Homo sapiens: one gene and its partner. The protein of the gene in region 2 interacts with the protein of the main gene of each other region in a biochemical or structural test. Each region holds a gene or a part of one and is shown on either strand. Other genes may lie near its edges.

Region 1 (8,892 bases), on a different chromosome or scaffold from region 2:
TCCTTGATATTCAACGGCATCCTTCCAAGAATGTGGTTAACCAATGAACTCAATCAAGTTCAGTTGTGTCTATGACTGTGATGTCTAAATAACTGAAAAGTAAAATATCCAAAATAGCTGCTTTTCTTATGCATTACACATACCCCAACATTATGCACACAGGTGCACCAACTTAGTCCATTTGTGCTACTGCAACAAAATACCTATAATTTATAAAGAACAGAAATTTGTATTTCTCACAGTCTGTTGGCTGGGAAGCCCAAGATCAAGGTGCTCGCAGGTTCCACATCAGGCGGAGGCCCCTTCCTCACAGATGACACCATCTAGGTGTCCTCCTGTGGCAGAACAACAGAACAGCAAAATGGGCCTAAGCTAGTTGCTTCCAGACCTTTTTATAAAAGGCAACTAATTCATTCATGAAGACAGAGCGCTCATGCCTTAAATCACTTCCCCAAAAGCCCAACCTCTTAATACCACCATAATGGGGACGAACACATGAATTTGGGGTGGTGGGACACATATATTCAAACTATAGCATGCACTTTTCAACATCTTAAAACAGATTCCCGTGGTCTCAAGAGGCCAGACTAGACAAAAATTAGGGCATCTCTTTGGTTACTCTCTAAAACGTTAAACTCTATACTGAGAGTGAGTGGAATACAAAAGTATGACATTTAATTAGACATTCTGCTGGCTGACACAAAACTTGCACTTCCTTTTTCATTAGCCAATAGGTACAGCTATAACTGTAGACAGAAATTATAATTAGAAATAATGAGAGCAATTTCTTGGATTACTCCACTTTTAAATTATATTTTATTCAGACTTATCCTTTGAAATTACTCATGATTAGCCTATCCTCTTCATGTGATAATTTAGGAAACCTCTCTATTGCTGTGGCATCTTTATGGAAAAAAAAAATTGTGTACATGCATACATGCAAGAAAGTTTCCTACAAACATCACAATTTAAAAACCACTCTATCCAAAAAGGCATTGTAAAAGTATAATTTTGCATTTTATTCATTCATTCCATCAGCTGGGAATTGCTCTATTGTACAAATACAGTTTTGTACAAAAAAATCACAAAATGTTACAAAATAAAAAAAGTACAAACTGCATTACTTAATAAATATGACTAAAAGTAGTTAAAGTGGCAATGAGATTGATTTTAAGTTGGAAACATTGTTTGACCCAGCAAACCATACAAGCTCTGTTTACAGACATTTCTACATCAATACAGGGCAATCCTATTTTGCCTTTTGAAAGAATGTAAAGAAATATTAAGACAGTGTTCTCCTGCTATAACTGCCAAGGTTGGCTCCAGACATTTATGCCATTAGTTTATAAATCTCTTAGCTGGATTCAAGAAGTTATATAAAGCAGGAGGCTTATCTTGTCACAGAGTTTTATACCATGTTAACATTCTCTTACAACAACGTGACAAATGTAAATAAAAACAACTGAGAGCACCAGACAATCTACTCTACACATCAACCAGGGTACAGAATAATCATTCTGCCATCAGCAAATATCAGACTTTCATTCAAGTAAGACCTGCTACTATCCCTTAAAAGAGGAAAAACAAAACAAAAACCAAAAAAAAAACACAAAAAAACACCTTCCCACAACCTTCCATTAAGTAATTTTCTTTAAAAGATTCGCCATTTCTAGAAAAATAATGACTTCCAAAACAACAGCTCTGTTTCATCAAAATGGAATGGGCCAAACATCTGGTAACAAGAATGCATCAATATCCATTTGAAATAATTATCTAAGAATTGTGAAATTCAAATTTCAACAACATAAAATAACTACCAAATCACAAACTCTGTTCAAAATAATACATTTCATATAAAGCACTTCTCTGGATTTACGCCTGAAAGCTGTTTGTCAAAATGGAACACGTCATAGATGAAGGTACACCAGTTTTTAAAAATGTTGTGCAAAAATACATTTTTATAGAAAATAGACTACCAGGAATGAACAAATTTACACTGTGAGAAATCAGCTTGCAAATTAAGTAATGCTCACTTTATACAGCAAATTATAAATAGCAGTAAAATCACCCAAAGCTATCATGAAACATCATTTAGGTGCCCAGCAACCTCCAGCTCTGAGAAAACATTCAAAAAGATGATTAAGGCATTACACCTACAGTAAAATCTACTAGCAAGTTTGAAAGTGCTATTACCCTGATTAAAGTTCATGTGATTCTCCAAACACAAGTTATATATGCAATTATTCCCAGGGTGTAAGGTTTTGAGACATTTCAAGAGCATGCATTTTGTTCAATATACATTTTAGACAAGGATATGGCCATAGATTTGGCAAGTTCTTCGTCGCGTTTCCTTTGCACTTGAGTTTGTTTGCACCAGTTGTCGTACTCTGGGTTAGGATAGGAGTGATCAAATACAGCATCATAGTGTCCGTTACTGAGCCAACTGAGCCAAATACTAGGCCTCAGGGAATCCTCTGGGCCCAAATAATGAATCATGGTAGACACCGTGGGACTCTCCAGCCTCCCTCCAGTAGTTAAATGGATATTCACATTCAGCATCTGCCCCATGGCCAGCAACTCCGGGTACCCGGCCCATGCCCCGTCTTGGGCAGCAGCGATGATAAACTCCCCCACGTCGCCCTCAATCAGGGGGCTGAAGTGGTCGAGATGGTCGGCGATGTAGTGCACCGTCTGCTCCCTCAACTCCCGGTGCAGGCTCTGGTCCCCATACACCGTCTTGCTGACAGCTCGGTAGAGGCAGTTGCCGTCTGGAATGATGTGGAATCGGTACTTATTCCTCTGCCGCAGATACTTGTCCTGCTTCTCCACCTCGGCCAGGTATAGGGCCAGCTTCTCGTCTCTGGGATCCGACCTGGAGACGATCACCGGCTCCGCCGCACTACTCGGGGCGGCCTCGATGCTCCCGGCGGGGGGTGCCTCGGCCTCTGGGTCGGGCCTCCGCGCCGCGTCCCCACCGGGCGCGTCGCAGCGATCGCCGCCCCTCTCCCAGCCCCTGGGGCCCCTCTCCGCCAAGTGCTCTTCGCCCCACGGACCGGGGCCGGGATCGGGGCTCCCCGGGGTCGCCGCGGGGCCTCGGTGCTTGGCGGCGGCCAGGGCCTGGCGGTGCTCGCTCAGTCGGAAGTTCCGATCGGGCCCCTCCCGTGTCGCGTCCAAGCCCGCGGGCTCGGGGCAGTCGGGCCGCAGCAGCTCCTCCAGGAGCCAGGCCGAGGAGCCCCGCCGCGGCGGGACCGGGGCTGCGGGCGCCGGGGCGAGCAGGAGGCAGCGGCCGCGCGGGGCAGCGGCGGAGCCCGCGGCGCCGGGAACGGGATCGGGCCCGTGCAGCAGGAGCCTGTCGGCGCCCAGGGCCCGCACGGTGATCTGTGCGGTGGACGTGTAGTGCGGCGGCAGCGGCGGCTTGCAGGACGCGCCGGGCGGGCCGGCGGCGGCGGAGGCGGGCGCGGCGGCCCCGGACACCACCTCGAAGCAGGAGGAGAAGGCGGGCATCTTGGCGGCGGGGACAGCGGCGGCTTCCCGGTGCTCGGCGGCCGCGGCGGGCTGGCACTCACCGGTCTCGGGCTCGGGCGCGGCGCCGGCGGCTCCCGGGGGCTGCAGCGAGACCTTGAAGGGGGTAGCGGCGGCGGGTGGCGCGGGGGCGGCGGCCGTGGGACCCGGGGCCCCGGCGGGGTAGTGGGTGCAGACGCTGCTGTAGAGCTGCATGTCCCTGCCCGCCGCTCGGCCCCTTATAGGCGCGGCGAGCCCCGGAGCGGGGGACACACCCTCCGGGCCCGGGGGAGGGGGCCGGCGGAGCGCGGTGACCCAACGGCCCCAGAATAGAGATGAGCGAAAGGCAGCCGGCCGCCGCGAGTCAGCAGCCGCGAATAGCGCCCGGGTCCCGGCCAAATTCCTGCTGCGCCACAGCGCAGGGGGGCGGGGACGGGACGCGAGCTCGACCCCTGCCGGTGCGCTCGGCCCGCAGACCCGGGGCGCCGCGCCCGCTGCAGCTGCTTCGGCCCGCGGCGGCCGCTGGGGACTCACGGAGGAAGCCGCCCGCCCCGTTGGAGCGCGTCCCGCCGGCGAGGAGGAGCGCGGTGCGCGCGGAGGCCCGGGAGGCGGGGCCGCGGTTGTTTACCTCAGGCCTCGCGGCCGCGTCACGTGGACTCACTGGAATGCGCGGCTCTTTGCGGCGCCCGATTCAGTCGCGCCTGCTCGCCCCGCCCACTCCGGCCCGCGCCCCGCCCCCTACCGCGCTCCGCCGACGTCACGGGCGTGGCCCTCGGCGCGCGAGCGCGCGCGGGCGGGGCGAGGCCGGGGGCGCGGAGGCCTGAGCAGTCCTGGGATCCTGGCTGGGCCTCCCGCCCACGTGACTCCCACGGACCGCTTCCCCCACCTGGGCACTGGGCACTGGTTTCTGCGCTGCGCCACTCTCCTCAGCGGCTGCAGTGGATGCTGCGGGATGGGAGCTGCTTGGGGCGAGTTAGCATGCTCGGAAAGCTTGCGTGGCAGGAAAGCTTCCGGCATGGGTGTGGAGAACGGAATGCTGCCTTAAAGTCTGTTTGGCCTCTGCTGGTCATGGGCTACCATCCCTGCTTGCATTCACTACTGCCTCTTTTCTTTTATCTTTTTAGAGATGGGGGTCTTACCTGTCTCCGAAGCTAGAGTGTAGTGGCGCAGTCCATAGCTCACTGCAGCCTTGACTTCCCGGGCTCAAGCGATCCTCCCGCCTCAACCTCCAGAGTAACTGGAAACCACAGGTGTGCACCACCGCACCCGGCTAATTTTCTTTCTTTCTTTCTTTCTTTTTTTTTAAGGCGAGGGTCTCACCACAGTTGCCCAGTCTGGTGTCGAACTACTGGCCTCAAGCTGTTTCCCGCCTCGACCTCCTAAAGTGTTGGGATTATGGGTCCTAGCCACCACTCGTGGAACCGCCGCGTCTTTTCCTTTTTTTTTTTTTCTTTTTCTTTTTGAGGCAAGGTCTTGCTCTGCCTTCCAGGCTGAGTGCAGTGGCGCCATCATGTCCCACTGCGACCTCGACCTCCAGGGCCCAAGTGATCCCCCTTCCTCAGCCTTGCCTTGGGCAGGGATTACAGGTGCCCAGCTAGTTTTACCACTGTGTCTTTTCTATGCATTTCCTTGGACTCACCGGTAAGGGTGAGTCCGCTAGTGGATTCTCTTGCCTTGCTAAGACAAAACCAACTTTGCACCTCTGACCTATGCCATTTGGCAAATATCTGGCTTGGGGGAAAGCAAGGAAGCCTTTTAGGCTTTTATAAACAAGCTTTCTCAGAATACCAAATGCAGTATCACTTAGGGCCCTTTGAGAATAGGTGTGAATGCTAGCCAGAGGTCAAAAGCGGTGGAGAAAGTCGTGACCTGCATTCCGGGGCAAGATAGACTATAGAAAATACTTCTACCGAGTCTTTTTGTAATACCCGCCTTTGTAAGGGAAAGCCAGAGGTAGTGGGAGACTTTTGCTATATTCTGAGCTGTGATCAAATGCTAAATTAACAGGGCCTAAACATTCGAATTGAACCCAGAGGTTGTCCTAACATTTTAGAGATAGGGAGACTGAACCTGTAGGTGATGTAGGCTGTACTCCGGTCCCCACCTTTCCGGTGGAATGTGAATTCCAGGAATTGAGAGACTTGGGTCTTGCTCTTATATTTCCATCCCCTAACACCGTGCTTGGCACATAATTGGACCTAATTAATATTTACTAAGTGAATGAGTAGATGGAAAGCGAGTTTCCAAGGTTTGTCAGACAGTGGTGAAGCCAAGATTACTATCCAGGTCCCTTGACCCTAGCCAGGGCTTTTAATTATCTTTGGGCAGTATGACTGGCAGGGTCCCAGCTCAGGTCACTCCAGCCGCTTATGTAAATTAACTCAGAAGAAGGTAAATGACTGTCTAACTTTTCAAATTCTGGTAACTACCCCATTGGGAGCTTGAAGCTCTCATGGCTAATTAGAAAAAGGAAATTACCATCCTTGGATTTCATCACTGATTTGTTGAGCATCTGTTGCTCTGTGCATGAAGCACTTCACGCTTAACTCTTTCATTAGCTGGTGTTCTGAAACAGAAGACAAGACTGTTAACAAGGCCGTCACCAAATAATATTTACCATACCCACCACGTGCCTGGCAGGACTAGCATAACTGGAGCCTGAAGGGAGATAAGGAAAATATTAGAATTTAAACCCTAAAGCAAGAGTAGATATTAACAGGTTGGGGTAAATGCAGAAAACAGCAACAACAACAACAAAACACTAGGTCCACAGAAGACACACTACCTCTGATGTACCAAGTTAGCAGCAGACAAAAACAAAGAGGTGAAGATTTGAAACATTAACATATGAATGCATTTTTAAAAATCTTTTTAGTTTGTCTGGGGGCAGTGGACTATGCAAGACTGTGTATTGGCAGTAGGAATCCTTGTCCACTCTGTATCTCAATGTGGAAAGGCTTCCTGGAGGAGGTGGTACTTCAGGAAACCTTCAAAGCAGAAATGATAGCAGCTTTGGAACTGGATGTTGTTTTTGGCCCTTGGAAGCTAAGAGAAGACAAGGCCTTGCAGGTGACAGCAAAGAGATTAGGGAGGCAAATCTGATTTCTCGTGAGTTCAAATAATTATCTATAATGTAATTATGTAATTAAAATTAATATGCATGAAAATTGCTACATGATCAGAACGATTGAAGAGTATAAGTTTTCAGGAAGTGAGTTGTTTTTATTCTGATGGTTTCCGTGACTGTTTTCCCTTCCTCAACTGTAAGCTCCTCAGAAGGATCCCAAAACTTAGCATAGAATAACTTGTAACGTTTTTGCTATATACTGTATATTAAAACATGGGAAGACTATAAATGTGATTTTTTAAAAAAAACTGTGCAAAGAAGCTGAATCCTGTGTCTTTAGATAAACATTAAATACATCCAATTAAGCTAGAAAAAACAATTCCTAGGCTAGGAGCCATGGCTCATGCATATAATCCCAGTACTTTGGGAAGCTGAGGCAGGAGGATCACTTGACCCCTGGAGTTTAAGAGCAGCCGAGGCAACATAGCAAGACCCTGTCTCTACAAAAAATAAAAAATAAAAGAATTAGCCTGGCATGGTGGCACATGCCTGTAGTCCCAGCTTCCTGGAAGGCTGAGGGGGAATAATTGCTTGAGCTCAAGAGTTTGAGGTTGCAGAGAGCCATGACCACACAATTGCACTTTAGCCTGGGTGACAGAATGAGGCCCTGTATCAAGGGAAAAAAAAGAAAAGACAGACAGACAGTAGCAAGTGTTGGAGAAAATGTGAAGTTAAAATCTTCATACGTTGCCTGTGAGATTGTAAAATGACGCAGATACTTTTTAAACAGCTTAGCAGTTCCTCAAAATGTTACACATAGAGTTAACCATATGATCCAGTAATTCCACTTCTAGGTATATAACCAAGAAAAATAAGAACATATCTCCATACAAAAACTTGTATATCAATATTCATAGTAGTAGTATTCATAATATCCAAAGAGTAAAAACTACCCACATATCCATCAAATGATGAATGGATAAACCAAGTGTGATACATTCAGACAATGGAATATTATTCAGCCATGAACAAAATGAAGACACATGCTACAATATGGATGAATCTTCAAAACAGGCTAAGTGAAGAAAGCCAGATGCAAAAGGTCACATACTGTATAATTCCAGTTATATGAAATGTCTAGAATAGAGAATAGGCTGAGGTGAGGAGGGAATGTGGAGTGACTGCCAAAGGGCGTGGGTTTCTTTTGGAGTGATCAAAATGGTTTGAAAATAGCTTATGGCTGTTCGAGGGGCTCATGCTTATAATCCCAGCACTTTGGAAGGCCAGGGTGGGTAGATCACTTGAGTGCAGTAGTTTGAGACCAGCCTGGGGAACATGGCAAAACCCCATCCCTACAAAAAATACAAAAGTTAGCCAGGCATTGTGGCACACACCTGTAATCCCAGATGCTTGGGAGGCTGAGTTGGGAGGATCCACTGATGCTGGGAGTTTGAGGCTGCAGTGAGCTGTGATTGTGCCACTGCACTCCAGCCTGGGTGACAGAGGAGACCCTATCTCAACAAAAAAAGAGAGAAAGAAAGAAAAAAGAAAATGGGTTATGGCAGGGCAAGGTGGTTTATGCTTGTAATCCCAGCACTTTGGGAGGCTGAGGCAGGAGAATCACTTGAGCCCAGGAGTTTGAGACCAGCCTGGGCAACATTCAAGACTCCATCTCTACCAGTAATAATAATAATAATAATAATAATCAGCTGAGTGTGGTAGTGTGCACTTGTAGTCCCAACTATTCAAGAGGCTGAGGCTGGAGGACCACTTGAGCCCAGGACTTTGAGACTTTGAGATCGCAGTCAGCTATGATCCTGCCACTGCCTTCCAGCCCAGGTGACAGAGCAACCCCTTGTCTCCAAAACAAACAAACAAACAAACAAACAAAAAGTTGCTAGTTGCACAACTCTGTGAATATACTAAAAACTACTGAATTATACATGTGAAGGATGAATGAATTCTATGGTATGTAAATCATATCTAAATAAAAGCTGTTTTTAAAAACCTTACCATGAGCCAGGTACTATGCTCATTGCTTGAGATAAAAAGATAATTATATTTTAACCATAAATGTCTCAGCAGCAACAATACTTATTTTGTGACATTATTGCATATATCATGGACAACATTTTATATATCTTAAAGATTTTTTCTGACAAATTCACAGTACTCTATATGATAGCTTAAATGTAATTGTTTAAATGATATAAGTGAGCTGAAGCTTACTGAAGCCAAATCATTCATGCCCAGATAAAACGGATATTTAGGGCACTAGACTAGTAGAAATGCTATTTGAATTTATAATTTTTTTATAAACTTTT
Region 2 (8,621 bases):
CAAGCCCTAGAGTATCTTACCTCTTCCCCTACACAATTCAAAGGCTCTTCTCTTCTCTCCTTTCAGTTGTGGCCTCTAGGACCAGTGAGATCCTTGGAAGACTCTTGCTTTCCAGAGTGATGAGAATCATAAAGTCATTTAACACCTTTCCCCCTAGTCATCAGTATAGTCCCTTCCTTTCCCAGAGTTTCCCCTGGTTTTTAAAAAAAGAAAATTATGATACTCAATTGGCTTAGTAAAATCTCACATTTAGCCAGCTTAGCTGAAACATTTCAGACCTATGTTTATTATACAAGGGGTTTTTGTTTGTTTGTTTGTTTGTTTGTTTAGGGTGAGATGAAAGAGGCAAGATTTAAGAAGCTGGGCAAAAACTGAGCTGATGCTGGCCTTTAAAGTACCTCCCACCTTGCTCAACCCCAGCAGGAGAGGAATAAGAAGAGTTTGGAAGGGATAATGATACCATATGAAGCAAGAGAGGACAGAAACAGGAGAGTCGAGAAGCAGGATCTCTAGCAGTATGCCCTTGAAGGCAGAGACTGCAGTCAGCGATCGGCCTAAGCTCTGCACACACGGCAATGGCAATTTGTCCAATGAGCCCTGTTGAAGGTGGAGTGCTGCTGCCTGTACCTCCTCATCATCACTGTTGCTTGAGCACCGAAGAAGAGTGGCCCAGCCTTTTGGGTGCAGCTGTAAGGACGTGATGCAGTTTCCGTGGTCACTCTCACCAAGAACTTCAGGGGTTACGACTTCAAGACTATTTCGTGGTGAAACTCCTGAGATATAAGAAAATGAGGATGTGGGATTTGTATTATCAAAAAACTAAGGCAGTTCATCAAAGCTTTTTATTTCTGGCAGCCACCTCCCATGCCGTCATTCCTTAGTCTGCCCCTTATGCTACCATATGTTAAAGAGCGTGGTACTCCCCAATGTATGGTGTGTGAGTTTTGGCGGGGTGAAGGTGTGGGGAAAGGGTATAAATAGAACAAAAGATCCAAGTTCCCACAGCAGTAATTGTCACTGACCTAAGGCTAAGGCATAGAAGCTGACTAGGGGTTCTTTTATTTGGATCTTACATCTCAGAAAGCTCTTTATTTAAGTAAGAACCAAAGTTATGTGACATGAAAGGACTCTAGAAAGGTAAAAGGTAACAATTCTCCTCTCATTGGTCCTGGTGCTTTCTGGTCCAGAGAAGGAAATACTTGGAAGCCATGAGGATTGCCTTTTAAGCAAATAAAAAGATCAGGACTTAAGCACCTGCAATAACAACACTATAAACAAAAAATAAAATGTTGGAGGTAAGAAAGGACACCTCACATAAAGGCATGTCAAAACAAGGGATGGGAGACATTGCCAATCATAGACTCTACTATGCCTCATCATTTCCTTCTACCTAACTCCCAATGAAAATGACTGCTGGAGTAAGGCACTGTTAATAATAGGAATATGTTATATCCTTCAGGTGCGTGAAAAACCACTTTCATAGACACTGTAAGGAAGCAACTTAGAAATTTAATAGCAAGAGAAATATTTCAACACTTCTCTGACTGTGGAAGGAGTTATTTTGAAGGTATTGAGCTCCCTCTGTCAGATCCTTTGTGAATTGCTTGTCAAGCAGATGTGTTACCTTCTTTCTAAAGATTCCCTTCAGATTACTACATCATTAACAGAAACCTGTGAAGCTCTAAATTACACTGCTATAACAAAACTATACTGAAATAACTATTTCACATATGATTGAACTTTAACAATTTTAGAGAAAAATATACTCTTATTTTAAGAATTAATTTGGAAAACCTATAACAAAACCAGACAAGAAATGCATTCTAAGTAGGTGGTTTGCTAACTGTGCTCCTTTGGGGTTCCTCAGGAGATGGCAAAAGTGGGGAACCACGTGTGGGCTGAGGTGTAGATGGAGTGGGGAAGGCTGGAGGGTCAAGAGCCTCCCTAATTTTTCTTGAACCAGAGCTACTTTGATTTTATTTGTGCTACATCTCTAAGAATCCACAGCAGATTTCATGTCAAAAATAGAGTTCTAATGCTGAAATGCATTTGAAAGCCTCTGCTCTATACAGCTATTATATCTGCCAAAGGATAGTGTTAACATACTCTGACATCTGAAGATCCAGGATTTCCAACATTTAGAGCAACTTCACCTATAAGCCCCACCTTCTCCCATGTTTTCCCTCTCTTTTCACCCTCTCATTTTCCTCTTCTTCCCAGCCTCCTCATATATCATCTCTTCCCTCATTCTTAACTCTCTGTGGCATAGAACTGCTGTATATTTGTGTTTGTGTGTTTACCACTGGTCAATAACAAGCAAGCATGTTAACTATTCTTCTTAAATTAAGTTTCTTTTTCTTGTGGATGGTGTAGTCAATCAATAAAGATTTTTCTCAATGATTATTAGAAGCCTTGACTTGTTTCCCATAGCACAAGTGGAAGGAGAACAGGAAGAATCTGCAAAAGATGTTTGTGTTACAAATCAAAGGAAAAATGTTATACTTCTGGGCATAAATCTTTAAATTTAAGAGGAGGAGCCTTTAACCTTAAAGTGAAATATCACAGACTTCAATATCCAGAGGCAAGTGGATAGGCCATATAGGTTAGAAAGAGCTCTTAAACCATTCTACTGACATAAGTAGCCATGCAAGATAACCAGCATCTACTAGGCAAAGCCACCCAGTGAAAACACAAATTAGAAGTCTAAGATTTAGTCTCTGCCCAAAATAACAAGGTAGAGAAATGTCTATCTCCAAAAGTGACCCAAAATGACAAAAAAAAAAGCAAGCCATCTCTGGCTCTTAATACTCAGTTCACAAAGAGAAGAATAAACAATGAATGGTATAAGAGCTTAGACGTCAGTTAGTATGAAGAGGAACAGTATGTGGAATTTGTATAGGCAGAAACCATTTCAACTGGGGGGGTGTGGTGGAAGGTATAGGGCAGAGCAACTAGTTCTGCCAGAATGGCTAGGAAAAAACTGGGAAATACAGAGAGGAGCCAGATGGTAGCTCACTTTATCCTACAAACCCTTGGAAGCTGTCAGGCATTGCACAGACAAGGAAATGGCAGAGCAAAAAGTCTGAGGGTAACCAGGTGACTTTCACAATTACCTGAAAATTCATGACTTATATTTATACAGAGCTTTCACGTGCATAATCTCACTTAATTTTCACAACAATCTTGATTGAAATCTATATTTCTGAACTACTTCCTCTCCAAACTAGACCAAACTAAGTCCAGCTAATAAAACCAAAGCTCAAGTTCTATTAAGATTTAACTCAAGATATTCAACCCCAGGGACTCTCGGTTAGCTTTTTGAAGATGATGACTGAGGGATAAATCACCTCATCTCCATTGCTTTTATTTTTATGGATTAAAACCATAAAACTGGTTTTAATCAATCAATAATTAATCAGATTGGCATAATCTGTTGTTACAAGATTATAAAATCCAACTTTTAACCTACCTTCTCTTTGAGAGGCTCGTGACATGTGTTTCTCAGAAGAATTAGAATCACTATGATGACAAGGTGAGCCAGAAACTCTAGGACCAGATGAACTTGATGAAGTGGTCAAATCTTAAAAATATAAAAAATTCTGACAATAAACCTAGCATAACTCTGGTAGTGGCTCTTAACTTTTTAATTATCTACTCGAACCATAGTTTTAAAATTTTGAAAAAATGCTCATATATCACTGGCCTATAAGACTGAGGAAGGCAAGACAGCTCTTTGAAGTGTTCTAAGATCTAGTCCCTTTCTGAATCTTTTATATCAAAGACTTGACTATGTGAAATAAAAATGAAAAACCAAATAATCATAGGAGCGTCTTTGGATCCTCATGATTTCTGTACTAAAATGGAACCCAAAAATTCCATGAAAATGAAAACTAAGCTCTTAAGCCTATTGTTTTATGTTAAAATAGGGTCCAAACAACAGGCCCATTACCAGAAACATGAAGAGATTCTTCTTTAAAGTATACCAAAAACTTCCATTATCATTCTTGAAATTACGTGAATAGTCTTTTTTTTTGAGACAAGGATCTTGCTATGTTGCCCAGGCTGGACTCCTAATTCCTGGGTTCAAGTGATCCTCCTGCCTCAGCCTCAGCCTCCTGAGTAGCTGGGCCTAAAGGCATGCACCACTGTGCCAAGTTTATGTGAATACTGTGAAATGTGACATAAAGTTTACATTGAAAAAAATAAAATGAGTATCAGGTAGTGGAGTCTGATATATTACTCCAAATAGCAGTGTCTATTTCATCATCACATTTTGCTAGTGGTCCCATACCTATGTTAAGAATTCTTACTAGTCTAATTTCCTGTAATGTTATTTAGTATCAGAATTACCATTAGAAAACTGAAAACCTTGTTGGTTTTTGAGTTGAAATAGGCCAACTAGACATTCAAAATCACTATTTCTCACTAAGTTAGAGTTGCTTATCATGTTTAACTTAAAAGGCAAATTTGAATCTCAAAGGATTATACTCGTATATTTATGAAATCCCTTGTTTGCAAGTAAGTTGGTAAAACTTAAATTTCTACTTTTGACAGTTATGCCAGGCACTGCAGTACAATGATGTCTGTACTTTCCCAAAGGAATTTTCAGAAGTGGTCCTGTGCACAAGGAGAAAGATTCCAACCTTTTTTTTCATTTCCTTTTTTTTGGACACAGGGTCTTTCTCTGTTGCCCAGGGTGGAGGGCAGTGGGGCACAATCATGGCTCACTGCTGCCTCAACCTGCCAGGCTCAGGTGATCCTCCTGCCCCAGCTTCCTGAGTAGATGGGACTACAGATGCATGCTAGCATATCTGGCTAATTTTTGTGTTTTTCGTAGAGACAGGGTTTCACCATGTTGCCCAGGCTGGTCACAAACTCCTGGGCTCAAGCGATCTGCTCACCTCAGTCTCTCAAAGTGCTAGGATTACAAACGTGAGCCACTGCACCTGGCTAAATTTTTAAGTTATTTGTAGAGATGAGGTCTTCCTATGTTGCCCAGGCTACCCTTGAGTTCAACTCCTGGGCTCAAGCGATCCTCCCACCTTGGCCTCCCAAAGTGATGGGATTACAGGTGTGAGCCCCCGCACCTGGCCCCAACCATTCAAAGCTGCCTTTTAATAGCAATTTATTAGCATTCTATGTTCCAAATGCTTAAGTCTTTTTTCCCCTGGATTTTTGTTTATAATGTAAATGATGGGTATGTCCCCACACCAGTCCCCTCTTTCCCAAAGGTAGATGAAATATAGTCTTTTTTAAATCACATAATGTTGATAAAATACAATACGTACATTTTTCTGAACCCTAAATTCTCTTAAGTCTAACAAAATCAGCAATGGGAGAAGAGACAGAGTTTTAGCAAAAGAGCGTTTAGAGAGTAATGAGATAAGATGGCACCAGCTACCTGTGTCTGGACATCTGTAAGTCTAGGATACAGATAAAACTAAAACTCTATATTGACCATAATTTAATAAAAGCTCTGCTTGATTCCAGAAGGACTTAAGACCTTGTGCCATCACTAATTTTTGAGATAGTGATGATTCAAAATTACTGATGAAAAGATCCTGTGGCTAGCATAAAGCTAAAAGAAAATACTTTAGGGTCAGCAGTTATTCCTCCTAGTCCATTTGTGATTCAGAGGTACATATGAATGATATGTCAGAGATACATACAAATCATTATACTTGCTTAGATAAAAACCCATCAATGAGCTTTCTAAAGAATGCCTTTTAAAAAACTGTCTTCCCTTTTCCTGCTATCATTTTCAGAAAAGAAACCTATACCATCTCTATGTTTGAGATTCTCGAGAAAAATCTTTTTGACCAAAAAAGAAAAGCTTACCTGAACTTGAAGTAGTTCTTCTTGCTCTTAAAATGGGATAGCTGCCTACTTCTAAAGACTTAGTTAAGTCAAGGTCATGCAAAATTAAGAGATATCCAGAGGACGTTGAAATCAACATTTTGGAACAATCTGGTGTTAACCTCATTCGCATGAGAAAACGTGTGTGAAAGAATTTCTTATGTGGACACCCATCTTCTGTATACCTACAGGAGAAACCAAGCCAACAAAATCTAGAGTTATCATAAATATAACGGTTCAGTAATAATCATATTTTTTGCCCTTCAAAATAAAATGTAGGGAGGATGAGAAGAGCTTGGTCAATGGGCTCAAAATTACAATTAGGAGGAATAAGTTCTAGGGTATTAATATTGCACAGTAGGGTGATGACGGTTAATAGTAAGATACAGTATATTATAAAATAGCTAGAAGAGCGACTGTTACATGTCCTTACCACAAAGGAATGATAAGTGCATGCTAATACTGATTTGCTCATTATACAACATATATGTGTCAAGACATCAAATTGTACCCTGTAAATATGTGCAGTTACAATGTGTCAATTAAAAAATATTTGAGGCCAGGCATGGTGGCTCATGCCTGTAACCCCAGCACTTTGAGAGACCAAGGCAGGAGGATTGCTTGAGCCTAGGAGTTCAAGACCATCCTGGGCAAGATGGTGACCCCATCTCTACAAAAATTTAAAAAATTAAAATAAATTAGCTGAGTGTGGTGGTGTGCACTCATAGTTCCAACTACTCAGGAGGCTGAGGTGGGAGGATCACGCGAGCCTGGGAGTTTGAGGCTGCAGTGAGCTATGATCACACGACTGCACTCCAGCCTGGGTGACAGACAGACAGACCCTGTCTCTATTCAAAAAAAAAAAAATTGAAACTTCAAAAATGAGATGTCTTTCCAATAAATTTTACTTTTTATGTTAATAATTATTATTTAAAATAATACATGTTGTTTTAATCAATTGTGGACTAATAATATTGTAATGATCATTAAATCCAGAAGAAATGTAACACTAATAGCCCTGTGGTCACAGAAAACAATTTTTAAAATTAATGTCAGTTTACGTGCATATTTTTGATGCCAATAAGAATGATCAGTAGGCTAGGGGTGGTGGCTCACACCTGTAATCCCAACACTTTGGGAGGCTGAGGCGTGAGGACAGATGGAGCCCAGGATTTCAAGACCAACCAGGGCAACATAGCAAGACCCTGTCTCTACAAAAAATAAAAAGTTAGCTGGAGACTGAGGTGCGAGGATGGTTTGAGCCTGGGATGTGGACGGTGCAGTGAGCCATGATTGCGCCACTGCACACCAGCCTGAGCATATAACAGGATATAATTCTATGAGAAAATATAATGAAAATGAGTACCAGAAGAAAAAGTTGTAAAACTTCCAGCTGTTAAAAAAAATAGAATTTACAGTCAATGTATATTGAGATTTACATACATGCTTAACAATCTTTTTGCTCATCATTCCTTCGTTCATCTCCAAAATTCCTTTTTTGATCCTTTCTTTCTGAAGTATATCCCTCAGAATTTTTTTTTTTTTTTTTTTGAGATGGAGTTTTGCTCTTGTCGCCCAGGCTGGAGTGCAATGGTACTGTCTCAGCTCGCTGCAACCTCTGCCTCTCGGGTTCAAGCGATTCTCCTGCCTCAGCCTCCCAAGTAGCTGGGATTACAGGCACGCACCACCACACCCATGCCTGGGATTACAGGCATGAACCACCATGCCCGGCCAGAATTTTTTAAAGTTAGACTTTGTTGAGGTAAATGCTCTCGCTTTTTATTGTTCTGAAAATCTTTTTTTTTTTTTTTTGAGACGGAGTTTCACTCTTGTTGCCCAGGCTAGAGTGCAATGGCGCGATCTTGGCTTACTGTGAACTCCGCCTCCTGGGTTTAAGCGATTCTCCTGCCTCAGCCTTTAAAAAAAATAAAATTTTTTAATGGTGTACATGATGTTTCAAATATGTATATATTGTGGAATAGCTAAATCAAGCTAATTTATATATATATATATATATATATATATATATATATAACCTCACATACTTAACATTTATGATGATAACACTTAAAATCTACTTTTAACAAATTTCAATTATATATAATAACAACAGTAAATTGTCATTAACAGTGGTCATCATGTTGTACAATATACATCTCCCAAGTAGCTGGGATTACAGGCACCTGCCACCACATCCAGCTAATTTTTCACATTTTTAGTAGAGACGGGGTTTCACCATGTTGGCCAGGCTGGTCTCAAAATCCTGACCTCTGGTGATCCACCGCCTTGGCCTACAAAAGTGCTGGGATTATAGGCGTGAGCCACCATGCCCAGCCTGTTCTGAAAATCTTTATTTCACTCTTTTAAGAGACTGGGTCTCCCTCTGTTGCCCAGGCTGGGGTGCAGTGGCATAATCATAGCTCACTATAACCTCAAATTCCCAGGCTCAAGGAATCTTCCCACTTCAGCCTTCCGAGTAGCTGGAACTACAGGTGTGCACCACCACTCCTGGCTAATTTTTAAATTTTCTGTAGAGATGGGGTCTTGCTGTGTTGCCCAGGCTAGTCTTGGAACTCCTGGTCTCAAGTGATCCTCCCACTTCAGCCTCTCAAAGTGCTGAGATTATAAGTATGAGCCACTATGCCCAGCTCAACTCATCTTATTGAATAAAGGTTTAGCTTAGCATATAATTTTAGGTCGTTGTTTCCTTCTGAATATTTAGGATAATTTTCCACAGAGTTCTATTTTCCATTGTTACTATTTGT

What was found.
Region 1: the proteins of DCAF10 (region 2) and OTUD1 form a complex in vitro, tested with the Homo sapiens proteins (one study listed by BioGRID).

What each region holds. Positions count from the first base shown.
Region 1 is NC_000010.11:23,434,283-23,443,174, reverse strand, and holds OTUD1 (OTU domain-containing protein 1), read right to left. Parts: upstream 4,101-8,892; 5' UTR 3,718-4,100; coding exon 2,272-3,717; 3' UTR 798-2,271; downstream 1-797. UniProt on the Homo sapiens protein: Deubiquitinating enzyme that specifically hydrolyzes 'Lys-63'-linked polyubiquitin to monoubiquitin.
Region 2 is NC_000009.12:37,852,200-37,860,820, reverse strand, and holds part of DCAF10 (DDB1- and CUL4-associated factor 10), read right to left. Parts: intron 6,042-8,621; coding exon 5,839-6,041; intron 3,581-5,838; coding exon 3,470-3,580; intron 774-3,469; coding exon 628-773; intron 194-627; coding exon of another isoform or gene 161-193; exon of another isoform or gene 21-160; intron 1-20. UniProt on the Homo sapiens protein: May function as a substrate receptor for CUL4-DDB1 E3 ubiquitin-protein ligase complex.